2 separate regions of the Homo sapiens genome follow, and region 1 is linked to region 2. Evidence: fine-mapped expression QTL. A gene starts in region 2. The other region holds a variant in brackets. All regions are shown on one strand. Distances are between the middles of the regions. Region 1 overlaps SLC44A3-AS1 (SLC44A3 antisense RNA 1). Region 2 holds the start of F3 (coagulation factor III, tissue factor).

The links.
Region 1: its variant is fine-mapped to the expression of F3 in lung (TOPMed, PIP 0.92).

The regions. Positions count from the first base shown.
Region 1 is chr1:94,776,715-94,791,957 of GRCh38, forward strand. All of the region lies in intron 1 of SLC44A3-AS1 (SLC44A3 antisense RNA 1), which reads right to left. Among named protein-coding and RNA genes, the nearest start is that of SLC44A3-AS1, 36 kb to the right of the region's middle. RefSeq lists an enhancer at 6,448-7,210. The variant A/G (reference allele first, on the strand shown) is at 6,730.
Region 2 is chr1:94,536,120-94,551,362 of GRCh38, forward strand. F3 (coagulation factor III, tissue factor) reads right to left here and starts at 5,640. Exons shown (of 6, transcript NM_001993.5): 1 at 5,418-5,640; 2 at 4,138-4,249; 3 at 1-45. The coding sequence starts at 5,517. It overlaps MIR12133 (microRNA 12133), which reads left to right and starts at 7,583; the gene lies at 7,583-7,660. LOC124904223 (a long non-coding RNA gene) reads left to right here and starts at 5,855. Exons shown (of 2, transcript XR_007066234.1): 1 at 5,855-10,753. RefSeq lists a silencer at 5,560-5,839.

The sequences.
Region 1 (15,243 bases), 240 kb after region 2:
GGCTTCCTCTAAAAAGAAAGCAGCACAGAAGAGGCCATCTGCAGAGCAGCAGGTGTGTGCATGGCTGTCAGGTCTGAAAAACTCACCCCTTCCTTGGCAAGGGGAAGAGCATGTAGTCATGTGATTCACAGGACCCTTTCATGACTACAGCAGCATTTGTTCTGCATCACCTTCCAGGCAGGTAAGGAGCCTGAGGCTCAGAGTTGGCCAAGCTGCCTGTCATGGCACAGCTAGGTGGTGACAGACTCAAGCCAATTGGGCATGTTTCTGCTACATTGCTGCCTTCCCATGACCCAGGGCCTCCTACTATAGAGAAGGGAGAAACCAATTACTTGAGAGTGTCCTTTCCATAACCATATGGCCTGCTTTCTCTCCCTCCCCTCCTAAACCTGAGAAACTAGCTCACTCTAAGTTGTTAATGACTGAAAAGCACACCCTGCAGCATATTTGTGATTTACAAAAACAATGCCCTAATAAAAGGACCAGTTTTTACAGTTCTAGGACTGTAAATGCCAGGCAAGAGATCTGCAGAAGAGGTATTTGAAGACCTCAATGGAGGGTCTGACTCTTTCCCCACCCAGAGAGTGAGCTTTTCCATCCAGAGCAGTGCCATCACTGCTTTACTCTGTGCCTTTGGTGCAAGGCACAGTGCTTACCACATGGCAAATATTCCCTAAGATATCTGGTGATAGATGAATGAAGAAGTGGATGGATGGATGGATAGATGGATGGATGGATGGATGGATGGATGGATGGATGGATGGATGGTTGGGTAGGTGGGTAAGTGGGTGGGTGTGTGGATGGATGGGTGGATGGATGGATGGATGGATGGATGGATGGATGGATGGATAGATGGATTGATTGATGAACTACCCCCAAACTACCCTTCCCAGTAAATGAGTCATTCATTCACTTACTCCAGTTATGTCTACTAAGAACCAAGCCTGCAGCAGGCAATAAACCATGCACTAGAGATATTGCTGTGAACTAGACAGTGTTTAGAGTCTAACAGGGGAGTTGGTCATTAAACAAACAGGGGCCAAATAGTTATTTAGTGATAGTATGGACTAGGTGTGCTAGTAAGGCTAATGGCCACAACTGTATGTTCTGATCATTTAGGTATCCAGCTGCTAATCTGTAATCTAATTTTTAATCTGGCCATTATTCTTACCAAATTCTCATTTTTTAAATATGCTTGGTGTTGTTTAAACAAAACCTATATGATTTATTTTCAACCCAAAAGAGTAATGCTTAAGGTACATGAAGGAAAACCAAGGCACATATATCAAAGCTCTAGAGAATCAGGTTTCAGTTCCACTAAACTATTTCCACCAGCCTCTTCAATGATTAGGATTTTAAAGCTCAAAATAGTTTCCACAGCAGTATTACAATGATATAAAAATTACATGCATAGAAACCCTAAAAGGAAATCACAAAAACATAAATAGTAGATATTTATTAAATGGTATAATTATAGGTATTCTTTTTACTATTGCCATTTTTTAAGTTTTTTATTTAATGGATGATTATTACTTTGTAATAAAATGAATTTTTTAAAAGACTGTTTAAATGTATGATAGATGATCTCATTTTCCTTTTAGAATTATTCATATTGCAAAGTCTACAGTATATTACACTTAGTGGATTTTCACTATGTCTTTCTTTTATCTCCCCACTATGTATTTCTTGAATGAAGGAACAGATGAATGAGTTTTGAATTCTAATAAGACCAACATATGGAAATTTTTGTCTTAAAGTGTTGCGCTCATATTTTCCAAACAGCGATCAAACTTGAGACCTTTGGGCTTCCTCGAAAAAGACCTATCAAAAGCTTGTTTTAGTTGTCTTAATCAGTTCTTAGTTATTTTTGCTTGTGAATACGAGTTTTGAATATAATAAATGGATTGAATTAAAGAAAATATGTTTAAACACATTCTGAAATGTATTACTTCTCTAATTTCTACTATTTAAAAATTATGTCTCCTATTGAGAACAACATTCTGCAGGCTTCTCAAGAAATCTCACTTGTTATCAACAAATATTTGGATCCCATCAGAACATTTGTTTTTCATTTGTAATTGTATTTACTCTGGAGTCCTTCTGTGAACTGTTTGGTTATGACTAATAAGTTAGGAACAATTAGCTAAAATTCATTCAATCATAGGAATTTACATTTGGAGGGGTCATTAATGGTCATTTAAGTCCAGCATTTCTCCCAAGCAAGAATCCCTTCTACAGTCTTGGTCAGTAGTCTTTGGTGTCTGTTTGAATACCTCAGATGCTAAGAATCTCACTGACTCCCATGGAAGCTGAGTTTGTTTGTTTTTTTAAATGCTTATCTTCATGCCCATCAAAGATGAAAGTTTTATTTTGTTTGCATGTACACTTCTAATCCCCAGCACAGAACTCAGCACATCAAAAATCTTCAGTAAATGTTAATTGCCTGAATAAGTGGAGGTTTGAATCCATTCATTCATTTAGTGTATTATTGAATGTCTACTATGTGGTGGGTATTTATCTGAAGCACTGGGGGTACAGCAGTGGACAAGAAAGACATGGTTCCTGGCCCATGAGGTGTTTTCACTCTAGCTGGAAAGACTAATCTACCCATATTTCCCTTTCCTACTTAAATCTTAGACATATCATCAGTAGGCAGATGGAAGCAGCCACTATTAGGACAGGTTGAGGAATAAGTAGCAATTTCTTACACATTCTTAGAGATTACTTGAGAACCTCCAGGGAAGACTACACTTCCTGTCAGGCTGGGCTGGTGGATGTTCAAGTCAGTATTGTTTGAATATTAAAGAAATGTAACCTTATTTTATCCCTATAGCTGATGCAGCAGGACATTCAATACAAAGAGAGAGAAGATGAAGCTGTATTAACACATACATATATGTTCTACTTATTGATACATTTATATATATGTATACACACACACATTTATTCTTATTCAAACACATACACACTCACATAAAAATGGAAAGATATTCACCTAATTTTTTAAATGATTATCTCCAAGTAGTGGGATTATAGATTTATTCTTTTAGTTTTTCTATATTTGACACATTTTCTTCAGCAAACAAATATTACTTAAATAAGCAAAACAATTGTATTAAACACACACACACACACACACACACACACCCACACACAGCAAGTCCGGCTAACTGGTCACGCTGCTGATGCCTCCATGCTTTGTTCCTGCAAATGCCTTCTCCCTCCTCTCTCCCTTTCAACATCTTCCTCGCCCTGTAAATAATCTCAGCTCAAGCATCATCTCCACTAGAAAGCTCTCCTGATGCCCACCTTCCCCAGGGACCCTATACCCCACTTTCTTTGTGCACTTGCTGAACTAGGTAGAGACATTTATGATGGTGCCTTACAGCTATGCATGGCCTGCTCGCCTGATTGCCAGTGCCTGCAGGCCTGGCTCTGTGCCGCTCATCTGCACAGTGCCTCACCCTCAGTAGGGAATTGGGAGATAAGGGATGAATCCCTGAGCCTCTCCTAGGTCACTGATATGGCTGCTCATTGGTCATTCTCCTCTGTAGCTGAGATCACATTGCCCTCCTTACAAACTACTGATGGCTCCTTACTGCCTACTGAAAAAAATGCAACATCTTAGGGCATCCAAGAGCCTCCACAATATGATACCAGCTTGTACCCCATCCCAGGAGTACTCATCCAGCCCTAAACAGGTCATGCCTCCCCACCTTTGCCACTGCTATTCTTTTAAACTAAAATGATTTTCCCCATCTCTACCTAAGGAGTGTCTAAAAATAATTTCTACTCATCCTTACACTAGCTCGAAAGCCACTGATGCTCTGATGTGCTCATCAAAATCTCTGTTGGGAGTATCTGCAATCTCATATGCCCTGGGGTTCCTGTCTGTCCCTACAGCCACGTAAAGTAAGCACCATGAAGGCAGGGGTCATGCCTTAATCTTAATTTAGGAGGCACTCACTGAGGAGCTGTTGATTTAAAATGATTTGGAAAAGAAAAAGTCCACGTTCTCTTCCAAATGAAGGGCTATACAAGTTACTGTGAATGGTTTTAATACAGAAAATGAGAGAAAAGAGATCCAAAAAAATAAAGTGAAATGGGATAGGTTACCAAACAAAGAATGAAACCATATAAGTAGAATTTGCTTTAAGATAAACATTTAGGTATTGAATATCTGAGATTTCTGTTTCCTTGTTTTATGAGCACAGGATTGTAGGAGAGTCAGCGAGCAACCCCAACACCCTTAAGTTCTTAGGTGGTATTTTTGGCTAGAACTAGAAACCAAATGGACACCAGGCAGATTAACAAGATAAAAGCATACTAATTGTATTGGTTTTAAGGAACGTAGGTGTCATGCCAGATCCCTATTGACTCCAATAGGAATGGCACCATGTCTGAGAGGCCAAACAAGAGACCCAGAGCCAGCAAACGAGACACGGGGTTTTATTAGGGAGAAATTACATACAGGAATAGTCCAGTGGTGGAAGACTGAACAGGAAACTGTAACTGCTTGAAAAAAGCATGTAGTTTAGATAGCACCTTCACTTAGCACGCTCCCCCCGACAACCTCCATGTGGCAACCCTCATTTCTTAAGTCATTGCTGGCAGGTGCATCTGCCGTATAGGGTCATTCTCAGGGTGTGAATAAGTCAGTGCTGTCAGATGCAACTACTGTGCCCGTGGGATCTTCACAAGAGAGTGAAATCCAAAGAAATGCCCAAAGCAAGATGTCTTTATACTTTTTAGACAAAGAACAATGAATTTGAGAAGAAATGACAAGAAAAAGGGGATCTGGCTAGGGGTAGTAAATTTTAAGGGAGTCATAGGAGCTATATGAGGGGACATAAAACTAGTGGACGACAGGGGTTACTTCGGTAATATTTATTTAGGTCCACTGCAGCCTTAACTTCCCAGTCTCTGGTAATAAGGACGATTTTCTTGCCCTGGTACATGGAGGTCCCCCTCCAAGAGGAAGCTTTATGGCTTGCTGCATGCAGGGGGAGACAGGACAACTGGCCCTTTCTGAAACTACAATTTCTTCAATGTTTGTAACTCAAAATAATAAATATACCAATGTGGCATATTTTGAGATTGCACATTCTTCATTCCTTCAGAATTCAAAGTCACAGATGTTGGCTTTGTCCTTGACATTGCCTCTGATAAGTTTGGTGATCTTCACCAAGTCATCAAACCCTTCTGAGCTTTAATATCCTCCTCCTTAAAATGTATATAAGAATCAGTAGAAACAATAGCTACCACAGAGCTGTAAAGAGTTCATAAGGTGCTACAGAAATGTAAGGCATTTGTGAATGTGGTGTAATTTTTTTCAATAAATAAATATTAATTGAGCATCAATTATATGCCAGGTGCTAGGAAAAAACAGAAAAATAGCATTAGTGGCATCTACTTGCTTCCTTCCTTGCAGGCATATACTTTTGCAATTTGTTTCTGTCCTTCAGTGACATCAGTGCATAATGCCAGTTTCCCTCTCTTGTCTGTGATAGGGAAAGAGAGAAAGGAGCACACATAGCTCCCCACACATTCCCTGGCCCCAACCCTGCCAAGCCCTACACTGTAGAAACACAGAGGGAAGGCAGACAAAGGAGAGATTATGGGTATTAATGCTCTGGGGAAAATGCAAACCAGCCTGTTCATACCACCGGTCACAGAGTTTGATGATAGACCATGAGCTGTGACCATGAAAGGGATGCTGGCTTGACATTAGGATCAGTATATTTATAAGCAGATCAGGAGCTTATCCCATCATTAGAGCCTTTTGATCTTCCTTGCCCACCAAAAGGAAAAGCAAGACACCATCAAGTGAGGAGCCTGGGCCAAAGGTACCATGATACAGTCCAGTGCCTGAGGAATAAAACAGCCCCCGCCCTAGATGCTGCACTCAGATGGGAATGGAGGGAGTACTTGGGCACCTCTAGAATCATTCATTCAATCAAGCATTCAAAAAATACCTATCAAAACAGTGATAGGTATCAAAACCTATCAAAAAACCTGTCAAAACCTAACCAAAAAAGGTTAAAACACTGACTTTTTGCTGCACAAACCTGGGTTCAAAACTTAGCTCCACCCTTTAAAAGATATGGGACCCTAAGCAAGTTGCAGAACCTCCCTAAACCCACCACTTCATCCAGAAACTAGGATAACACTAATAGCTACCCTTAGAATTGTGGTGGAGATTAAATGTTACGGAGCTCTTAGCACTGTGCCTTGCAACTGCTAAGCATATAATGAATAATTGTTATTATAATCATCATTATCATTGATATGTGCCAGGCACCATCCTAGATCCTAGGGCCAAAGAGTTAGAGAAAAAAAAAAAAGTTATTGCACTCACTCAGGCAGACTACTCACTATAATACAATATGGTCAGTATTACAACAGGGCTAGGAACAAAAAGTTGTGGGAGAAAAGGGTTTGAGGGAGAGGGGTGGTGGCTTCCCAGAAGAGACAGTGTTTTCATTCAGCCTTAGAGGATAAGTAGGGATTTCACCAGGAGAAAGAGAGAGAATAAGGTAAGGCATTCCAGGCAGAGAAAATGTCCAAAGCAAAGTTATGGAGGAAGAAAGGAGCAAGGTGAGTTGAGACAGCTGCATGCAGTGCATCCTGGTCCTTCCTCTCCTCTAGTACATTGCAGAGAATCACCTTGTTCTGCTCAGAAAACACAACCTGGGGTGTGCTGGGCTGATAGAGAGATTCCAAAGAAGG[A/G]AGTGCCCAGGACTCTGGCACTCTTTCTGCTGCTTGGAATTCACCCTTCAGCCATTCCAGATGCCTGATTGCCAGGAGGAAGAGCAGAGTTGCCAAGGTCCTAGCTGAGGGAGAAAAGAGGGCAGAGCCTCCCCAGAGCTGGAAGGCCCTTTCAGCAGAGCCCTGGGGAAGCCACAGTCAGCTCCACGGCAGCAATCCCTGTAGGAGCAGCCAAGGAGCTGAAGCGCAGCCAGCCAGGCTGGCCAGCCAGCCTCCACCACAACAGTCGCTATTTACTTTGGATGCTGGCCGTCCCCACAATTCACACACAAGATTTATTACCAGAAAGTAAGTCATACAGGCTGCAGTAATAACATACTTCCTAAACGCAAGCCTTCACTCCTGTGGCTAGGGCAGGAGGATAGGACAGGAGGAATATCATCCAGTTATGGGGAACATCTATCATGCCTTATATGTTTAGAGAACATTTAAGTTCCCTAGGGAAGTCTTTCTCTGTGTCTTCAGCAACTTTGGTATCTGATCACTATAACAGGGTAATAGGCTGGAATTTTCTTTTTCTTTTTTTTTTTCTTGAGACAGAGTCTCGCTCAGTTACCCAGGCTGGAGTGCGGTGGTGTGATCTCAGCTCACTACAAGCTCCGCCTCCCGGGTTCATGCCATTGTCCTGCCTCAGCCTCTCGAGTAGCTGGGACTACAGGAGCCTGCCACCACGCCCGGCTAATTTTTTTGTACTTTTTAGTAGAGACGGGGTTTCACTGTGTTAGCCAGGATGGTCTCAATCTCCTGACCTCTTGATTCGCCCGCGTTGGCCTCCCAGAATGCTGGGATTACAGGCGTGAGCCACCGCGCCCAGCCTAGGCTGGAATTTCCAACTGTGTGTATACTCCCTGTCTTTTCCCTGACCTCTTATTTCAATCAGGAAACAAAGTTTTGTGATTTCTTGTAAGGGGATTCTGACAAAGTGGAAAGCAGACAGCAGACATCAATTCTAGAGCAACGGAAGTCAGAGGCCAAGGCAGGAAGAATGTCTTTAAGGAGCAGCAAGGTAGGAAATGGAGATTCCTAGAAACTGGAAAGAAGGTGGCAAGGTTTTAGAGAGGAGCCGCTAAGTGGTTATGGATTCCTGGAACTGAGCTTGGCCCTGAGGGGAAGAGAGAATTACCACCCAGCCACCTGTGCCAACAGATAGTTTCTGTCCATTGGAGACAGAAACAGGCCATTGGCTGGCCTGGTAATATGGTTTGGATGAACCCAAATCTCATGTCAAAATATAATCCCCAATGTTGGAGGTGGGGCATGGTAGGAGGTGACTGGATCATGGCGGGAGGATTTCTCATGAATGGTTTAGTGTCATCTCCATGGTATTGTCCTCACAATAGTAAGTTCTTGTGAGATCTGGTCATTTAAAACTGTGTGTCACCTCCTCATATCTCTTGCTCCTGCCTTTGCCATGTTAAGTGCCTGCTCCCGCTTTGCCTTCTGCCATATGAGTAAAAGCTCCCTGAGGCCTCCCCAGTAGCAGATGCTGCCATGCTTCCTGTACAACCTGCAGAACTGTGAGTCAATTAAACCTCTTTTCTTATAAATTACCCAGTCTCAGGTATTCCTTTATAGCAATGCAAGAACAGGCTAAAACACCTGGTCTACTACATTCTTATTTGCACTGTTTAAGCAGAAGAGTTCCAGGCAATACGAACTTAGTCTAATTTAAATCATAAAAACAGAGTCGCAGTTTCTGCAATCAATTCCTAGACTTGAGCCAGTTTACAGATCCCAAATGCCTTGAAAGAAGGGGAGGTTTGAGCTCCTTGAAGAAGTACCCATTACACTGCCAAAAGTTTATGCCATTAATCTTTTTCTCAGCCCTCCCCAAAGGACCTATGGCCTTCTGCCAGGGTGACTGTGCATTAGGGAAAACAAAATAATCAGACTTTTAGGTGATTATTGGACACTGACTTACTGGATTAGTGACACTAATCTTAGGAGACCCAAACCATCACTGTGGTCTATCAGTCAGAATATAAATTTTATTTATTTATTTATTTAGACATATGGTCTCACTCTGGTTGCCAAGGCTGGAGTGCAGTGGCATGATTTTGGCTCACTGCAGCCTCGACGTCCCCTGGCTGAGGTAATTTTCCCACCTCAGCCTCCAGAGTAGTTGGGACTACAGGCTCATGCCACTACATCCGGCTAATTTTTTTGTATTTTTAGTAGAGACCCGGTTTCACCATGTTGCCCAGGCTGGTCTTGAACTCCTGGGCTCGAGAAATTCACTCCCTTCACCCTCCCAAAGTGCTGGGATTACAGGCATGAGCTACCATGCCGTCCTAGAGTGGGAACTTCTGAAACTCAGGTAATTAGTGTAGTTTTAGCTCAAGTCACAGTGAGTCCAGTGGGTCTCCAAACGCATTCAGTGGTCATTTCTCCAGTTCCAGAGTAAATAATTGGAATAGACATATTCAGCAACTGGCAGGATCCCCATGCTTGTTCTCCGACTTGTGGAGTGAGGGCCATTACAATAAGAAAGACCAAGTGTAAGCCACTAGAATAGTCTTTACCTAGGAAAACAGTAAACCGAAAGCAATACTGCATTCATGGGAGGGATTCTAGAGAATGGTGCCACTATCAAAGGTTGGAAGGATGCACACGTGGTGATTCCCACCACATCCTCATTCAACTTGCCTATTTGGCCTGTACAGAAGACAGATAGATACTGGAGAATGGCAGTGGATTATAGTAAGCTTAATCAGGTGGTGACTTGAATTTCAGCTGGTCTTTCAGAAAAGGCTTCATTGCTTGAGCAAATTAACACATGCCCTATTACTGGTATGCAGCGACTGGTCTGACAAATGCCTTTTTCTCAATACCTATTAATAAAGACTACCAGAATTGATTTGCCTTCTGTTGGCAAAGCCAGCAATACACCTTAACTGCCTTACCTTGGGGTATATCAACCCTTCAAACCTAAATGTTATATTATAGTCTGCAGGGACTTGATCATCTTTCCATAAGACCACTGGTTTATTACATTGATGAATGCTGATTCCACCTAGTGAGCAAAAAGTAGCAATTATACTAATTAGTAAGACATTCGTGTGTCATATGGTAGGAAATAAATCTAACAAAAAGGGCCTTCCAACACTCCTTTATGATTAAGAAAACACTCAGCAAACTAGAAATAGAGGAAAACTTCCTCAAGTTGATAAAGCATATCTACAAAAAAATCTACAATATAATACCCAATGGTGAGAAACTACAAGCTTTCCCACTAAGTTCAGGTAAAAGGCAAGAATGTCTCTTCTCACCACTCCTTTTCAACATTGCACTGGAAGTCCTAACATAATGTGATTTTTTAAGGAAATAAAATGCATAAAGACTAAGAAGGAATAAATAAATCCGTGCTTGTTCACAGATAACCATGATTGCCTATGTAGAAAATCCAAAACAATCAACAAAAATATTCCTGGAATTAATCAGCAATTATAGCAAGTTTGCAGTATACAAGGTCAACATATAAAAGCCAATTGCTTTTCTATATACCAGCAATGAATAAGTGAAATTTGAACTTTAAAACACAATATTATCTACATTAGCATTTCCAAAAATGAAATACTTAGGTATCAGTTTTGTTTTAAATGTGCAATATCTATATGAAGGAAACTAAAAAATTCTGATGAAAGAAATCAAAGAAGAACTAAATAAATAGATATTTCATGTGTATTGATAGAAAGACTCAATATTGTGAAGATGTCAGCTCTTCCCAGCTTGACCTATAGATTCAATGCAATACAAGTCAAAATCCCAGCAAGTTATCTTGTGAATATCAACAAATTAACTGTAAAGTTTACATGGAGAAGCAAAAGACCCAGAATAACCAACAAAATATTGAAGGAGAAGAAAAAAGACAGACGACTAATACTACCTGACTTCAATACTTACTATAAAGCTATAGTAGTCAAGACAATGTGGCATAGTGAAGGAATAGACAGATAAATGGAATAGAATACAAAGACCAGAAGTAAACCCACATTAATATTGTCAACTGATTTTTTACAAAGGTGCAAAGGCAATAAACTGGAAAAAAGATGATCTTTTCAATGATAGTGCTGGAATAAATGGACATCCATGTGCCAAATATAAAAATCTAAACACAAAAATTAACTCAAAACAGCTCATAAACCTGAATTTAAAGCATGAAACTATAAAACTCCTAGAAAATAACATAGGAGAAAATCTAGATAATCTTGGGTTTGGCAATTACTTTTTAGATATGACAGCAAAGTCATAACCCATGAAAAAAATTAATAGGCTGGACTTCATCAAAATTAAAAACTCAAAAGACCCTTTAGGAGAATTAAAACACAAGCCACAGACTTGGAGAAAATATTTGAAACAGATGTATCTGATAAAAGACTATTACCCAAATAGTCTCATTCACTTCTGTTAAGATTGCAAAATAGTATAACCACTTTGGAAGTCAGTTTGACAGTTTCTTACCAAACTAAACATACTCTTACCATATGATCCAGAGACCCTGCTTTTGTAGAAATTAACAAACTGATTGTAAAATTTATGTGAAAATTCAAAGGACTGCGAACAACCAAAAAAAAAAAAACTGAACAAAAAGAACAAAGTTGGAGGACTTAAACAAAATTTACTATAAATCTATAGTAATCAAGACAGTATGCTATTTGTGTATGGACAGACATAATTGATCAAACAGACAGAATAGAGTCCAGAAATAAATCTTCATACTTACAGTCAATTGATTTTGACAAAGGTGACAAAGCAATTCAATGAGGGAAAAGAGAGTCTTTTCAATAAATGGTGCTGGAACAATTATATATTCATATACAAAAAAAACAAAAAAAATCTTAGACCCTCATCTCTTACCATGTATAACTCAAAATAGGTCATAGGTTAAAATGTAAGTCCTAAGTCTATAAAACTTCTAGAAAAAAAAAACAGAGAATCTTTGTGACTTTGGGTTAAGCAAACACTTGTTAGATGTGACACAAAGCAAGATCCATAAAAGAAAAAAAATTACACTGGAATTTATCAAAATTAAGTGTTTACTTTTCAAAAGACATCACTAAGAAAATTAAAACAGAAGCCACCATCAGGGAGAAAATATTTGCAAATCACATTTCTGATAAAAGACTTGTATGCAGAACTCTTACAACTTAATAATATAAGACAAACATGAAGAATGAAATTAGACTCCTATCTCTCCTATATACAAAAATAAAGTCAAAAGGGATTAAAGATTTAAATCTAAGACGTGAAACTACAAAACTACTAGAAGAAAACATTAGGGAAATGCTTCAGGATATTGGTCTGGGCAGATTATTTTGTGTAAGACCTGAAAAGCACAGGCAATAAAAGCAAAAATAGACAAATGGGATGACATCAAGCTAAAAACCTTTTTGCACAGCAAAAGAAACAATCAACAAAGTGAAGAGACAACCCACGAATAGGAGAAAATACTTGCGAACTATCCGTCTGATAAAGGGTGAATAACTAGAATACATAAGGAATGCAATGCAATTGTTTTTAAAAAATCAAATTTTGAAACAAGCAAAAGATCTAATAGACATTTCTCAAAAGATGGCATACAAGTGGCAAACAGGTATATGAAAAAATGCTCACCATCACTAATTATCAGAGAAATGCAAATCAAAACTACAATGAGATATCATCTCATCCCAGTTAAAATGGCATTTATTAAAAAGATGCTAGTGAGGATGTAGAGAAAGGGGAAGGAACCCTCATACACTGCTGGTGGGAATGTAAATTAGTGCAGCCACTATGGAAAACAGTATGGAGGTGCCTCAAAAAACTAAAAATAGAACTACCATGTGATCTAGAAATCCCACTACTGACTACATATCCAAAAGAAAGGAAATGAATGTATCAAAGAGATATCTGCACTCCCATGTTTATTGCAGCACTATTCAAAACAGCCGAGATACGGAATCAACCTAAGTGCCCATCAATAGGTCTATGGATCAAATGTGGTGTATATACACAATGGAATATTATTTGGCCATTGAAAAAGAATGAAATCCTGTCATCTACAGCAACATGGATGGAACTGGAGATCATTATGTTAAGAGAAATAAGCCACACATAGAAAGGCAAATATCACATATTCTCACTCATATGTGGTAGCTAAAAAGGTGGCACTCACAAAGACAAAGAGTAGACTGGTGGTTACCAGAGTCTGGAAAGGATGGAGGGGAGGGAGGAATGAAGAGAGCTTGGTTAATGGGTACAAATACAGAGTTAGATAGAAGAAATAAGACTTAATGTTCGATAGAACAGCAGGGTGAATATAGCTAGCAATCATCTATTGTACATTTCAAAATAGCTAGAAGAGAATAAACTGAATGTTCGTAGCGTCAAGAAAAGATAAATGATAATGGTGAAGGATATCCAAATATCTCATATACCCCCAAAATAGATACATCTATTTATCAATTTAAAAAGACAACTCTGGTCAGGCACAGTGGCTCATGCCTGTAAATGTCAGCATTTTAGGAGGCCGAGGTGGGTGGATTACCTGAGGTCAGGAGTTTGAGACCAGCCTGGCCAATATGGTGAAACCCTGTCTCTACTAAAAATATAAAAATTAGCCAGGTGTGGTGGCAGGCACCTGTAGTCCCAGCTACTTGGGAGGCTGAAACATGAGAATTGCTTTAACCTGGGAGGTGGAGGTTGTGGTGAGCCGAAATTGCCCCACCACTGCACTCCAGCCTGGGCAACAGAGTGAGACTCTGTCTCAAAAAAAGAAAAAAAAAAAAAGACAACTCAGTTTTTAAAATGGGCAATAATGTAAATAGACATTTTATCAAAAAAGGAAACACATATGACTAATAAGCATACGAAAGGATTTCCAACATTAGTAGTCATTAGGGAAATGCAAATTAATACCACATCCACTAGAATGACCATAATAGAAAAGACTGACCTTACTAAGTCATAGATTGTTGGTGGGAAAATAAAATGGTACAGCAACATTGGGAAACATTTTTGCAGTTTCTCAACATGTTAAATACACACTTACTGCATGACCCAGCAATTTCGCTTCTAGGTGTCCAGTCATCAGAAATGAAAACATATGTTCACAGAAAAACTCATATGCACATGTTCATAGCTGCAGGATTCACAATAACCCAAAACTAGAAACAATTTAAATGTCCATCAACTAATGAATGAATAAGCATATTGTTGCTTATCTATAATGGAAAACTACTAAACAATGGAAAGGAACAAACTACTAATATGTGCAACAGCATGGGTAAAACTCAAAATATTATTAAGTGAAAAATGCCAGGCACAAAATATAATATATTGCTTGACTCCAGTTACATGAAACTTCTAGAAAAGGCAAAACCATGAAGACAGGAAACAGATCAGTGGTTGCCTGAGGCTGAGGGTGGGAAGCAGGATTGACTGCAAATAGACACAGAGAAAACCTTCTGGAGGTGATAGAAGTGGTCTAAAACTGGATTGTAGTTATGGTAGCAAATCTGGAAATTTACTAAAAATCAACTATGCAGTTACAATGGATGAGTTGTACGGAATACACATATATTGCCATTACTTTTAATGACAAAACCACAATTACTTTTGCAACAACCTAATAAATTAAACCCCAATAAAGTCATTTTTTTAAAACAGAGCTAATTCTTGCATACTTCAGTTTGTAGACTTAAATTCATACTGATTTCATGAGCTTTAATTTTTCCCAGGCATAAATCATCCTTGCTAATATGAAAATCAATTTGGACAAAAGCTTTCCACTTGCCTTCCTCAACCTGTAATTTATTTTGAAAGCACAGAAGTTTCTGTTGCATGCCTCTCCTTCAAAACCTTTGCTGTCTTCTGATTATCTCACCTGGGAGGGCTCAGTCACAGGGTCAGAACGAAAGAATTCACAGTCATCATGAAGTGCAGGTACTATTCCATCTTCTATGTACCATCTTCCAAATCTATAGCAATGATTACTTGGAGCCAAGATCACTGAATTTTAAAGACTGAGAAATTCATCACAAGACTTCTAATTTCTCATTAACTCTCACTTTTATTAATTTAGAGATGAAATTAAATTTATTACAAAGCTACTCTCTACCCTTCCAGATCCAGAGCCACCCAAGGACTGAGTTCAAGAATCTTAAAATCCTAGGTAAAACTAACTGGCCCATTTGGCCACACTGCAAATCCTTCTTTCTTCACACTTGAAAAGTTCTGTGGGTGGTTTAAAAGATATTTTTAAATTTTCACAAAACATATAACCCAAATCAAATCATGCTTATGATCTCTTTCTAAATCTATAAATTTCAACTTATTTGAATCACTGATGAAATTATCACTCCAAATAATACAGCTGGATGAAATCTGAACCAAACCATACCTACCAGTCTGTGCAACGAAATTCAGAGCAAAACACACGCACAATTCTGGCAAGTGTTCATTGCCCACATCTACTAGCAGGAGACCCATGACTCT
Region 2 (15,243 bases):
TCTGTTGTGTAAAAGCATTTGCTTTTCCAATCTCCTGACTTAGTGCTAAAGAAAGAAAAGAAGGAAGAAACATAAATGGAATGTTACAATTTGCACCCAACAAGATAGACTGCTTCCTGGCTGTGGTGTTCTGTGCTAACATCAGGAGCCCTACAATCAATCCTAATGATGCAGTCACTGTGCTGAGCACTTTGCTTTTTTTTAAACATTGTTTTGTAGAGATGGGGTCCTGCTATGTTGCCCAGGCTGATCCTTCTGCTTCGGCCTCCCAAAGTGCTGAATGTACAGGTGTGAGCCATCATACCTAGCAACACCGAGCACTTGGGATGCATGTTTGAGTCCTCATAGCAACCCAGGGGATGGCTCTGTAATTTGCCTTGTTTTTACAAATAAGGCTACTGAGACAAAGTGAGATTGGGTGACTAGCTCAAAATCACACAGCTGGACTTTGAACCAGACAGCTATTTGACTCTTGGATCTGTACTCAACCATTTTGTTAAATATCTTTCTTTTAGAATGTAGACGCTCTCTGTCAGGGTAACAGGAGAGAAAGAGCAGTTTTCCATCAAGATGAGGCAACTGAGACAAAGTGAGGTTGTTTACTATAGTCTACTTATTATAGTTGTTTGTTATATAATGTTCTATATTCTATGTAGAATAGAGTCTATATAGTGAGTCTACATAATAACATGTTATACATATATTCTCTCATGACCACTATTAATAATATTATTAATCATTCATTGACTCCACTATATGCCAGGTATTCTGCTGGACCCTTTACTCATGTTACTTCATTTGATATAATCCTTCCAAGAAGGTGTTGGATCTTTCTTATCCATGAGGACACTGAAGCTCACAGGCACTAAGCAACTTGCAGAAGGTCACATATCTAACGAGTGGCAGAGCTGGGTCTGTTTGCCCCATTATACTACATGCCTCCCTTCCTTTGCAAGATGTGAATCCATCCCAACAAAGATTACAGAATAAGAGTACAGGTAGTATCTGTCTAATAAAGTCTGAGACTAAAAAGCTAAAGACAGATCTTTCTTTTGTGAGACGTCACTGAAGGGGAAATGATTTAAAGGACTTCTACTGACAATGAAATTCTTCTAAATGACCAAAATAATAAATAGGTGAAGCGTCACTGCAACTTGATTCACACACTTCTGTCCCATGGAAAGTGACAGTTATGCTGCTCTTCCCTTTGGCATTACTGACTGCCAGAGCCAGACCCATCGTTCAAGGCCAGGTCCCAACTCCACCTGCTCCAGGAATCTCCAGATCTCCCTGCTGAGCATTTACATCTCCCTCCCCTGTCCCCCAGCATGAGTTTCTCCACGATGCTGTTAATATGAACACAGTCTGCCTGGTACGAGGGCTGCATGCCCTTGTGTGCCCCCATTAAGCAGCAGGGCTATAGGGTCTCGCTGACTATTAGATGGTTTGCATTTACAGGTTGAATTAATACATAATCTCAGGGAAAACGAGGCACCACATGGATTCCATTGTCTAAATTCACACATAAAAGCCACAAATATATTTTCTTTCAAAATCTGAACTAAGTAACCAGGCCAAAAGGATTTGGGTAAACACATTCTTTATCCTAAAGTGCACAAACTAAGATTGATACTGAAATATTTTGGTTTCTATTTATTTAATTTTATGTGATAAAAGTAGAGAGGGTATTTTGTTCCCGAATGACCAAAATGTGTTTTATTTTATCATTTCCATTTCAAAAAGTGAATGAGACTATGCTGTTTCCTTTTTATCAGTACAGCAAATAGTTGTTCAGATAACAGGAGAAAGTCTCCTAGGGCTTTCTATGTAACATAGAGATACAGTATTTGGTTCCTCCCAGCTCACAGCAGGGACCACATACTCTATAGCAAAATTTAGCACAAGGATTTATACAGTACCCTGGTAAGTAGTAAAACTGTATAAACAGGTAATGAAGGGACAATTCTGTAGAAAATCCCTCTGAATGCCATTAATAGCATTAACACTTTAAAAGCCTCCAAGGTTCCTCCAGGCATTGCAAAACCCTCTGATTTGGAATTTTGAGTTAACTAAAAAATTCAGTCACTAATTTGGTTGCAGGTTGTTTTCCAGAAGCTTTGTAAATTCAGCTTTAGAATTCAGAACATTTCCATGGAATGAATATCACCGGTGACGGTTTGTGCTAAGGCTTAAGCCAATAACATTTCCCAACCACCACTGAAAACTGTTAGCAAAGGTGAAAAATGCAGTTGGAGTTCCAAGTAGGGGCTTCTGCACAGCAGTAGTGTCCTGCGGCTGGAGCCAGGCTGCAGTAGTGAGAGCAGTCGGGAGGGAAGAGGGGCAGCTGCTTAAGATGCTAACTGTAGGGAGGGAAAACAGGCAGAGAGGAAGGCCAACTGAGGAGATGCAGTGGGCAAGACTTTCCTTCTTCCTCCCGCTTTGGAGCCTCCCATCAGACTGTGGCAGAGCCACCTGAGGGATGGTGGTGTGTGGATACTGGGTAGACTTTGGTTCCAGACCTGACATGGGCACTCACCATCAGTGTAGTCATGAATAAATCCCTCACTTCTCAGAGCAACAGTTTCCTCAACTGTAAAATGACTGCTCTGGTCCTTTTTAACCAGGAATCTCATTTATTCCTGGGGTGGGCAGGAGAAGAGTGCACACCTCAGGCCGAGGCTGATGGAAAAGCTCCCAGGCCCTCCAGTACAGCAGCAAGAGATTGTTCAGTCCATAGGACCACCCTGAGTCGGCTGGCATCCCCCAAGCTGTAGCCCTGCGCTCTGCTGTTTGCAGATCAGGAGCTGTGCTCATTTAAATAACAGCAGCCTTATAAAGTTCAAGAACTTACAGTTAACAAAGGCTTATGTTTAAAAAGCAGATGAATCATAAATATATTCCCATGTGTCCCTCAAATATTAGATTGAATATATTTAGGAGGTAAGCATTCCTCCCAAAATCTAATTTTTACCATATGGAAGTAAAGTGTTTACTAAGGTAAACTTCAGGCCTGTATCAGAGAAATTACTTACTAATTCTCAATTGGTGAAATCTGAATTGACAAGTTTGACCAGAACTGTAATCATTATTTCATGTTATGAAATTCCTTCATCTTTCTCTCCCCCCACCCCCATACATATCCACACATGCATGCACGTATGCATGCAAGTTCTCCTTGCTGGTTTGGCAACTACTGTCATGAAGTTCATTTTGAAAAACAAGAACATTCACTTAAAAGATGCATCGTTATCTAGAAGTTGCATTCCTAATGCTGTAAAAGGCCTGGCACAAGCTAAAACAAAACAGAACAGCAAAATACCTTTTGTTTTAGCTAGTGCTACTTTTGTACTTTTATGTAATTAGCATTAAAATAATTTCCACAGCAGCTATTCTCTATTTCATAAGATCTCTACCAAGCCTCCTAGAACATTTCAAAAACCAAAAACTTGCCAAGAATATGGTGAAAACCATCAAGGAAGTCATAACCTTTAGATTGAACATGCTGAATTATCGCCTCCTGGGGACAGCTGCCAGTCAGAGTTGAGGCACCAAGAAGCAGAGCCACACCAGACCCAGAGGGTGCAGACAGCAGAGTATTTCTGCTCTGCCAGGCTCAGTGAGTCACGCATTTGGCCTCCTCCACTAAGATCATGTATTCTACCAGATTTCGATTCATGGAGTCCAAAGATGAATGAATCAAACACTGCTTAAGGGCAATGTATACATTGGGATTCCTCCCCACCTCTTCCCTAAGGTGTTAGACATTGTTCACAGTCTAGACAGCAACAGAAAAAGACATCAATGTTTAGATGAGATTAATTAATCTATCATGACCCAAAGCACACTTCAGTGCCTACTCAAGATGGTTCATCTCTCCACAGTTTATACTCCACTTAGGAACTCTCCCATCATTTCCAAAAACAATTAAAACAATTAAAATGTTCTATCAGTTTAAGGTCTGGAAATGTTGCAGGCCTAATAGAGTATGACACCGGCCAGCGAATTGCCAAGAATCCCTTCTTCTTCGTCATCTGTTAAATAATTTCATCCAGTAATCAGCTTTAAAGACATTCTTGTTCAGCATAGGACAGTAGAAACATCAAAGACCTTAATTTTCTTTTTCTGTACCCAGCTTACCTTATTTGAACAGTGTAGACTTGATTGACGGGTTTGGGTTCCCACTCCAAAATTGTCTTGAAATTAGTTGATTTCCAAGTTAAATTATATGCTGCCACAGTATTTGTAGTGCCTTTAAACAACAGAGAAACAGCTATTATTACATGCACTTCAGAGCACTCGAATGTATTGATGTATAAAACACCTTCCCACCTGACATCACCATAAACCTCACTTTTTATTTTTCAACCACAAAAGCTTCATTAGTGAATTATCAAGAGAAAAAGAATCTTCAAATTTTTTCTAGACCTAGAATTTCTTCATGACAAGATTCACCTTGTAATCCCAGGACACCGGCAAGGATCTTGACATTTTCGTTTGAAATTATTCATGGGCAAAGCCTTGTTATAACTTGACCGGGAAGAGCCCAGAGCCATCAGTGTGCCAGTCCAGGACTCAGCTCAGGAAGAGTCAGGTTCAGCCCGCCAGGAAGGGTTTTCAGTAAGTTATGGAAAAAGATAAATCCCACACGTGTGACAAGAGTTAGGACTGCATACAAATGAAAAAAGCCAAACTTCACTTTTTCCACTTTTATCTGAAATGTCGCTACACTGAAACTTCCACAGAGACCCACGGGGACGTGTGGCCTGTCACACCGTCGGCTGTATTGGATCAGGATTATTTCTTATGAAGGTCTGCTTTGCCAGTACGCAGCAGGTCCCAGTCTCTACGCCGTCCCGAACACCTCGTAGAAATACGGGGCATGCACAACGTTGTACCTGCTCCAATCTAAGCAGCAATCCAGCCCTTTTGGATTGCCTCTACCCAAACCTAGAACAAAGATGGCCAGGAAAAGACCAGGGACGCTCTTTATTAAGGGAAGATGCACATATAATGAAAGATAATATCCAAACCTCTGCACGCCAACACGTGCAGACGCAGGCACAAGTCCTATCATATTGAAGGTCGCAACTCACTGGGAAGCCCTTTCCCCAGAGTTAAAGCGGGAGCTAAAAGTCCGCTTATGCAACAACAGTCCAATTACTCGGACACCCCGAGCAAAACTCTCCAGCGGAAGGGGCAGCGGGGTCTGGGGCGCCAACTCCCTCCCTGCAACTCCCGCCGGCGCCCGACGGACTCGGTTCATTCAAGCCGGGCTGGGTGAGCGCAGCCGAGTCCCGTAGGCGCGGGGGACAACATGGGCGCCCCGGGGAACCAGGGCGAGCCCGCTGCCAGCCAGGACTGTCGCCTCCCTCCTGCGTGTGGCGCGCCCCGGGCTTCCAGGGGCTGGTGCCACTCACCTGAAGCGCCGGCCACCTGGGCGAAGACCCAGCCGAGCAGGAGCGTCCGAGCGACGGCGGTCTCGGGGCGCGGGACCCGGGGCCAGGCAGGGGTCTCCATGTCTACCAGTTGGCGGCGAGATCGAGCGGGTTCCGTGGCGCCCGTGGGGCTGGGGAGGTTGGGCTGAAGGCGCCCTGGGCCGGCCAGAGGGAGTGCGAGGGGGTGCGGGGAGCTCGCAGTCTTGGGGAGCCGGTGCCCCGCGCGCTATAAAGGGCCGGCGGCGCGCTCTCCCGCGCCTCTGCCCGCCCCCGGCGCCCGCCCCCGCCGCTCCTCCCGACTCCCCGCCCCCGGCCCGGGTCACTTGCCGTCGCGGTGGGCGGCCCCCGGCGAGTCCACACCCCTGCCCCGCCTCCTCCCGGTAGGAAACTCCGGGACCCTGCAAGGGATGACTCACCCCAGTGATTCAACCGCGCCACCGAGCGCGGAGCTGCCCTGGAGGACGCAGGCGGGTCTAGTTGCCCGGGTCCCCCAAGGCCCCCGGATTCACCCAGGCCCGCGACTCCGACGTGCAGCTTAGGTGGGTTGCAGGTCTATGGCAGGAAAGGGAGGGCGCCTTGGAAGAATTCTTCCCTTCCATTTGGTGATAAAGTGGGAGAGGCGGCATTTACAACATTTAATAGAAAGCACGGGCTCTGGGCTCCCCTCGGGCAGCGGAGGGCATTTCCCGGATGCTTTGCCCACCTGGGGCAGAAGCTCGGGACCTGCAGCGAAGTAAACGTGTGGCTGTGAGCAGGGCCCTCTCCCAGCCACGGTGGCTTCTTCTACCCCACGAAGGTCAAGAATACCTGGCCTGCCCACCTCGCGGGGCCCTTAGCGGGTCGCACAGGAGAAAGGCGGTGGGAATGCCGGTGTCAGCCACGGTGTGACCGGCTCGGCTCACAGGTCTGAGGGTCAGTTGGCTCAGGCATCGCCCGGTACGACCAGAGATAGTGACTGAGGAAGAGCAGCCTCACATCTGGCAGTTTGCCTCTGGGAGAATTCCAGCGTGACATCTGCAGCTCTGTGGTTCCAGAAAGGATGGTTCCCACATTGAAGAAGACATCTGTGGGACTGAGTTCCACCGAAATGCAGAGGAACCAAAAATGAAAATGAAAAATGTAACCAGAGTTGTGTGCCACTAGTTTTAAGCTTTGGTTTTTCTAAATTATTTTCTGGCTTCTCCTTCTGGGCTTTGCTGTAAACTTGCCAAGCATGAGAACAACTCTTCATCTATTGAGTGGCATTTTAAGCCATCCTGTCAAAGTATCTCCTGTCATTTTTATTATTATTACTCTATATTGCCTGCAAGACACGACTGGAGAATTCTTAGTGTAAGAATTGTTTGTTTCCTCTCTCCTTCTTTCCCACGTTTTCCCAGGGAAGTCAGTCTTGCATTTTAATGCATACTATATACATATCTCGTTTAGCTTACTGAACCACTTGTTTTAACAGAATAAAACTGTGCAAAATTTTAATTTTCCTCCTTTGCCTGAACTGAAATAGCACATCCAGGTTTAGCCCTTGTAGACTTTCCTTCCTCGAAGCAGAAAGTTGCCCTTGATGATTTCCTCTTTGAGCTCTCTGCCAGCTCTGAAACCCACAAAATTTATGTTTGCAAAACTAAGCCATGCAATCCTCTTTTTATGCAGGCTCTAGCCTGAGTCATTTTCCCTAAGAGATCTTCAGCTCCACCTGGGATGTGATTCTTTGCTCTCTGGGATTGAAGGTAGCTGAAGAGAAATAGTTACACTTCAGGTTTGTTACAAGACCCAAGAAATTGTTGCAATTCCACTTGGAGTCACTGACTTTTCTGAAATCATATAGGGCTTTAAACAATGTCAAGATCAGCCATTTGATAAGAAAAATGTTTACCATTGGATTGTGATACACAATGTGCCTTAAATATTGATAAATTAGATGAATATTTATTTTGTATATCCATTAAAATAGACAGGAAAGAGAAGATGTTGGGTGTTTGCACAGGCTTTTTAGTCAGTACGGAATGACATTCTTCAAGATTTAAAAATGCTAAAATCATTACTATTTTCAAGAAGAGGGAGGAAGAAAACGTGGTAAATAATATTTCATTGCGAAGTGTTTTTCCCTGACTGATCTAATTGTGGCCAGATCTACTTTTTGACGGTGCGAAGTGTACTTTTTAATGGTGCCAAACAGCAGTTGATCTATAATAACTGCTGCTTGGCACCATTAAAAAGTACATATCTAAAATTTCACTGTTGAAATTTGTTCACAAGAACAAATTGACTGTTAAAATTATTCCCTAACCTTAACACAATTTTTTTTACTCCTGTCAGTAAAGTCAAGCTTAGCAGTTAACAGTTCCCTCCTCCATGATCTATCTTGGAGGCTCTGAGAAGTTCAAAAAGTTACTAAACTATAACAATAATCTCTCTGGCTTGACCAGTCCCTTTCTCATTGGATTTTAGGATGTCAGAGGATGGGAGAACCTCACAGACATTCTTTTATGGATGAGAACCCTGTGGCCAGCTGATCTGAGTAAACTGGCTTGCCTAACCACACAGTGCAGATCTGGTCTTCTGACCCCGGGGGCTTTCCTTCCATCACCAGGCTTTCTCCTACTCCCAATGAAGGAAAGTAAGACTGGGTGGTAAATCCATCAAATGAATGATTAATTAATCCATCCATAAGCACTCAAAAATGTTCTGCATGTACACAAAGTGCAGAAAAGTGCAAAACTGCACAAAAACTGCACACAAAGTATAGAAAATACTTTGCAGTTTGGGGAACTCATTGTTCTTAGGCAGAAATATCCTGATGGTTAGTCCTTGAAATAGACAGACAAGGAGACACGTAGAAGAGTTTGAATTCCCTTTGCATAACCAGTGATGAAATGTGGTTGATGAGAAGTCTGAAAATAACTGCGGAGATGTTTCAGCCCTTCCACTGTACTTTTATAGTACTTGCTGCCAATTTTACCGACTCATTTTCATTGAGAACTTCACTTAATCTCACTTGTGTGTTTACCTGTTAATCTTTCCTGTTGGATTGGGTTTTTTGTCTGTTTTTTTCCTCTCTCAACCCTTTCCACAATTATCAGCACATAATAGGCACTTAATACCTTTTGAGTCAATGAATACTTTATAAAACTATGAGTGCAACCAAATATTTCACTGGTGTTCAAGAGATGAAATCTGTCACTGAAAACTCTTTCTAGGGGCCAGGCAGTGAGTGTTTCATGATGCTGAGATTGGTAAGAAAATACAAATCCATCATGACTGGAAAGGCACCACTCGACCGCAAGTTCTAGCAGTCTAACCAGTGATTAGCTATCTCTGCACCACCAGAAAATCTCACCAGGAGGAGAGATAGCTGAGAAGCAGAAACCAGATACAGAAGTTTGGAAACTAGCTAGCATTTTTTTAAAAGACTGGATTCTACGATGATTCAGAATATACTTCATCATGCGATGAGGTTGTTGATAGTTTTCCTTGCATACAGAGGCTGAATAACTTTTTAAAACAAATTCCTCAAAATGTTTATTTCCCAGGAAAGAGATAGGTTAAGATACATGATAGCAAGTAAAATTGAGAATAATTCAGAGAAACTTATTTTATGCATATGAAATGGTAAAAAGAGCAATGAAACCATTACCCAAAATTCAGGTAAAAGGCAAAGTATGAGAAAAGGCCAGAGGGAATTAGGAGTTAGTAGGAACACAGAGTTCTGGAGGAAAAGGAAAAAAGTGACTCAGCAGAACCTAAGAAACATCTGGCTGGGTATAGTTAGTCATGGAAAAATTGGCAGTCATGATTATGCATTTTGTGAAAATAGCAATATACTAGTCCAACAGTTCATTTAGACCAAAATTAAACAGTTGAAAGTCAGTATGATAAAATCTATTATCCTGGTCATTCAAAATACTTCTATCAACTGTCTAGAACAGCTTACAAGAAGCTTTGCTAAATGAGTTATCACATAGCACCAGTATTCTGAAAAATGTAACTTTAGAGAAAAACCTTCCAATTCAAGTCTTAGACTGGGATTGGTATTTTCAGCAGACATCTATTTTTATAAACGTAAAGCTTATCAAACTACCTTTCAACTTTCATTTTGATGAACAGTAAATATTATTTTATTATCTACATACAATGGTGACAAAATAGATAAATAATAAATATGAATTGTGGGTATTATTTTAGTAACAAAAAGTCATTTAAAATGAAAACCCTTAACCTATGTTCTTATTAATATAATATTTATGTGATTTAAAATTTTGTATATGGTATCATTTACTTAAGCATCTCTTAATTCCTCATTTCTGTAACTCTTTATACCTGACATATGTACTAAATTTGATGAACAGAAATTCATTCATTCAACAAATGCTTGAATGTCCACCAGATACTGGGTTCTTTGCTAGACTCTGGATGTACAGAGTAAAACAAAGAAGTCCCTTTCCTGTTAAACATATCATCATTCCTACTTATGTCCAGATTTTATGTTTGTTTGTTTGTTTTTTGAGACAGAGTTTCGCTCTTGTTGCCCCAGGCTGGAGTGCAATGGCACAATCTCGGCTCACTGCAACTCCACCTCCCAGGTTCAAAGCAATTCTCCTGCCTCAGCCTCCTGAGTAACTGGGATTACAGGCATGTGCCACCATGCCCAGCTAATTTTGTATTTTTAGTACATACAGGTTTATCTATGTTGGTCAGGCTGGTCTCAAACTCCCGACCTCAGGTGATCCGCCTGCCTCTGCCCCCCAAAGTGCCGGGATTACAGGTGTGAACCACCATGCCCGGCAGATTTTATGGTTTGAATGATTTTCTGTCAGCATTTGAATTGGATATAAAACAATCTTAACAGTGTTGTTTATTTACAAATTTCATTCTGTCCTCCCCCCAAAAAGATTTAGGTGTGTCATGATCAGTTCATCAAATAGGTATCTTTAACTCAGAAAATGACTTACAGGTTTAAAATATACATTCTCTATCAGTTTGAACGTATTGATGAACTCTCAAAGTTTTGAATATGGAAAAAATATATGAAGCTCAACAAGAAAGACAGCTTTATAAAAAGGCAAGTCTAGCAGAAAAGATAACCAAGTAGGAGGAGATTCCTCACGTAAGGAAAAAAACAAGTAAAATAATCAGCTTAAAAGCATGTGTGCAAGATATTTCATTGTTATTTTTATGTTTGTTTGTTGACATTTTATAGCCTAGTTAACAGATGCTCCAAATTTTGAGCCTGTAACCCTTCCAATCCCTTGCTGCCTTTGATGGTGATGCTCCATCCTATTATACCAACTCCACATTGAAGCAGAACTCTCAAGACAGAGGTAATTCCTTAGTAAGCAAAGTTATTTTTCACACTGGAAACATGTTTGTTTGACTGGTTGTAATTGTCATCCTAAACCATCATTACCCTTTATGTTACAACATTTTAGCATCTCACAGTTCTAAATCAACTACTTCTATTCTCACAGTTCTAAATCAAATACTTCTATTCCTTGCCATAAGGGGAATAACAGGTTGCTTTAGCGTCATTGTTTGTGCCCCCTCACACCCACCCAGCAAATCCGTATGTTGAAATCCTCACCTCCAATGTGATGGTGTTAGGAGGCGGAGCCATAAGTAGATGATCTGGTCGAGGATGGAGCCTTTGTGAATGGGGTTAGTGCCCTTATAAAAGAGCTTCATCTTCCTTTCTGCCATGTGAGGACATAGCAAGAAGACGGTTCGGGAAGCTGAACCAAACCTGCTCGAAACTTGATCTTGGACTTCCCAGCCTCCAGAACTGTGAGAAATAAATTTATGTTTGTTTAAGCCAGTTGGACTATGGTATTTTTTGTTATGGCAGCCTGAATGGACTAAGATACAGGACATATACTATGGAGACAGCTATTAAAATGACCAATTTAGAGCGATTGATCTTAGACCTGCACCTTATTTTAAGAATAGTGTTTACTTTTCATCTCCAATCACAATGGATTTGTTAACCAAGATCCTGCCTTATATGGGTTAATCAATACTTATTAAGGGATTACTATGCACAGGACAGTATACCAGGAACTGTGAGTCCCTTTGGTAAAATATCTCGTAACTAGTCAGGAAGACGAGACAAATACTTAAGCTTCCACAGGGGAAAGTGGTACGAATGATGTGGGATATAGTGTCACATCTCTTGCTAGTAGATTGAAAGCCCTGTGCTGGAAGAGACTGCTCTATCTTTACAGGTAGCTACAGTGCTAGCAACAGTGCCTGGCACACAGTAGGTCCTCCGTATTCAGAAAGCTTTGCTTAAAGATACAGAAGATGTTCAGGACCTCTACAGAGAGAGTTTGGTTCTCACTGGGGTGATGAGAGAAGGTTCCCTAGAGGAAAGTATTATTTAAGCTGTGGCTTAGTCCATTTAGTCTGCTCTAACAAAATACCTTAGACTGGGTAATTTATAAGTAACAGAAATAACAGTTCTGGCAGCTGGGAAGTCCAAGATGAAGGCACTGGAAGATTCGGTGTCTGGCAAGGGCTCACTCTTTGATTCGTAGCCGGAAACTTGTTGTTGTATCTCCATGGCAGAAGGGACAAGGCAGCTCCATTTAACTTCCTTTATAAGGGCACAAATCCCATGCATGAGAGCAGGGCCTCATGCATCACTGCCTAAAAGGCCCCACCTCTTAATACGATCACATTGGGCATTAGGTTCCAATGTATGAATTTTAGGAGGAAACCAACATCAGACCATAACAAGCTGGACCACAGAGGAACAGCAGAGAGGAGGAGGAGAGTTTTAGTAAGAAAGAGGAGGTCATGGCCTCTAAGAGTGAGCAGAAAACCAGTTACAGGCAGACTCTGGAGATAATGAAGATTCAATTCCAGACCATGGCAATAAACCAAGTATCACAAGAAAGCAAGTCACACAAACTTTTTGGTTTCCTAGCACATATAAAAGTTACGTTTATACTACATCATAGTCTATAAAGTATATAATAGCATTATGTCTAAAAAAGTACAGACCTTAATTTAACAATACTTTATTGCTAAAAAAAATACTAAGAATCATCTGAGCCGTCAGAGAGTTGTACTTTTTTTGGTGGTGAAGGGTCTTGTCTTGATGTCGCTGGCTGCTGACTGATCAGGGTGGTGATTACTGAAAATCGGGGTGGCCGTGGCAATTTCTTAAAATAAGATAACATGAAGTTTGCCACATTGATTTTTCCTTTCACAAAAGTTTTCATCACCCTATATTGAGGTTACACACGATGTCTGTGTCTTCTGCTCTACCCTAGCATCATGCAGGCAGGAATGTGTCTGTCTTGGTTCTCCACCAAAGGCCAGTACTTCTAATACTTAGATGCTATAATCAAGCACTTGCCAAAAAAAAAAAAACAAAAAAGTCTGATAACGAAGACATAGCCCTGACATGGTTCTGACAGTTTATGTCTTGGTTATGGTTATGACAAAACCTTTCCGAGGATTCAGGAAATCTGCAAAATGGCTTTGTTCTGTCTTTTATTTCTTAGCTGATGTCATGATGTCAGTGGAAAAGCAAATGATCATTTGGGAATATCCAGTGATCTCAATACCAGTCTATTACTTGCTGCCAGTGAAAATGGCCAAAAAATATTGTTCTAGCATCCTATAGGTATTAACTGAATGCTCACAACAACCTTCTGAGAGGTAGGTGGAACTATACATTTTACAGACAGGCTAACTGAAGCCCAGAGAGGTTAAATAATTTGCCCAAAGTGGCACAGCTGGGAAATGGCTAAGCTGGGATTTGAACACAAATAGTGGAGCTGCAAGGTGCACATCCACAACCTATGTTGCTATGTGGCCTCTCCTCAATCATGACACTAACACATGCACATTTCCTATGAAAGCTCAGTGAAAACCACTGCACTGATTCAAGTCCCTTTTTCCTTTTTCCCCTGTCTTCCCTACCTGGTGAAGTTGACCCTCTGTGATGCGCCTGGCTTCAAAACATGGGGACTTTCTGAAAGAAAACTAAGCCAAAACCTGGCCCAAGTCAAGAACAAAGGGATCTTTCTTTTGCTTTGTTTCCAACTCATTTCATCCACATCTAGATTGCTTTCCTCTCCAAAACAGGAAAAAGGAAGCTATCTCTGAAAATGGCTTATTTACCCTGACAACATGAGATAAATGCTCCTCAGCATCTTATTATTTATTAAGAAATATGGGTCATGATTACAACTCATAAATATTAGGAAAGCCCTTTCTGACCTACTTCTTGCTTATGGCATCATTGAGCTGATGAGTTAGATTAGTCCATAATCACTTTCACTTATCTATCAGCCATTCCACAGCCCTTTTCTCACCTATGAATTAATGTCCTATTTATCATCGTGATACAAACATCCAGGCTCAAGTTGGAACTTGTCGTGCAGTCACTTCTATTTCCCTGGAATATTTGTGCAGTGATTGCTCCCTACTTGAGAGCCCCGTAGGGAGCCTCTGCAGATGAGCTCCCTCCTATGGGATGTAGGGTGGTCTCCACTACGACCTGACCCCTCCGTGGTCAGTCACTTCCCCAAATGTAATCTATGTTGCCTGGTACCAGCTTCAGAGCCTGCCTCTAGTACCAGGTTATGTGATACCAGTGCCTGGGTGTCACCTAGAAAAATGTCGGCGTCTGCAGAACCCACGACTGAGGCTCATCCCAGGAAAAATCACCTTGTGCCCTTTTCCTCCCTCCCATCAGAAACATTTTTGTCGTTTGGCAATCAGGTTACAATAATCATTACAAGCAGTCATTAAGGAAAAAAACTCATAGGCGCGATGGTAGTTGATTGAGACGGGGCGTGTGTGTGTGTGTGTGTGTGTGTGTGTGTTAGGGAGCTGTTGGGGAAGGTGGAGATTTTATTTTTATAATGAAGAGGGTTTGGAATTGATTGTAAAGGCATGAACCACAAACACCCACCAGCTGTCTCCGAATATCCCACGAATGGGAAAGGAGAGCTTTGGACCCTTACGTGAGAAAGTCATTTTGCCTCTGTTTTTACAGGGCAGAAAGGTCATGCTGTAACTGGAGATATTACCCCAATGATACCAAGCAATACCAATAGATTCTCAGTCCCAGCTGCTTTTTAGCTGAGTGGGGTAGGGATGGTTTCTCACAGTCTCATACAGCGATGAGTTACAATAATAGGTGTGCCAGAGCTGCTATCTCTGTGGTTCTGTTTCACAGAGAAGTTCCACGCACTCTAAATTACCAAAGAGAACTTCTTCCTTCGTTGCAGTTTCAGCTCCAGCTGCTGCACTCTTTCTTGATTGTATCTGATGTCTGGCCCTGCTTTGGTCTCTGCCTTTTGTACGCTGTATCCAATGTGGGCCTCCTGAAAATCTGATCCCTGGATATCTGATTCAGGCCTTTTCTGTTGCTAGAGAAGTGTGCATGCTGGCTCTTGGCTTTCTTATGTGCTTGTGACCTGTTGGGCAAGGCACTAAATAAATATTCTCCAGTCAGCATTTCAAAGAGAAGATTAGGAACACGTTAAGCCTTTAGTTTAAATGGTTCAGTTAATCCAGGAGTAAAGCACACTGAGGTTTGAGGCCATGTGAAATAGCTGACGTCTTAAAATGAAATGTAAGCATGGAAAAGTGGCACACACTCCTTCCATGAAGGGAAGGAAATGTGAACGCACGCTGCCCATATGTGTCTAGCCATTTGATTTCCCTGGGGTTTAGCTGTACTATCTGTAAAAACGGGGCAATGGGCCTGTGGTCTGGATCTCATATTTTATGATTTGCTACTTAAAGACTTGGATATTTGGGCCAGAGCTTATTATCATAGCTGATCTGTGCCAGT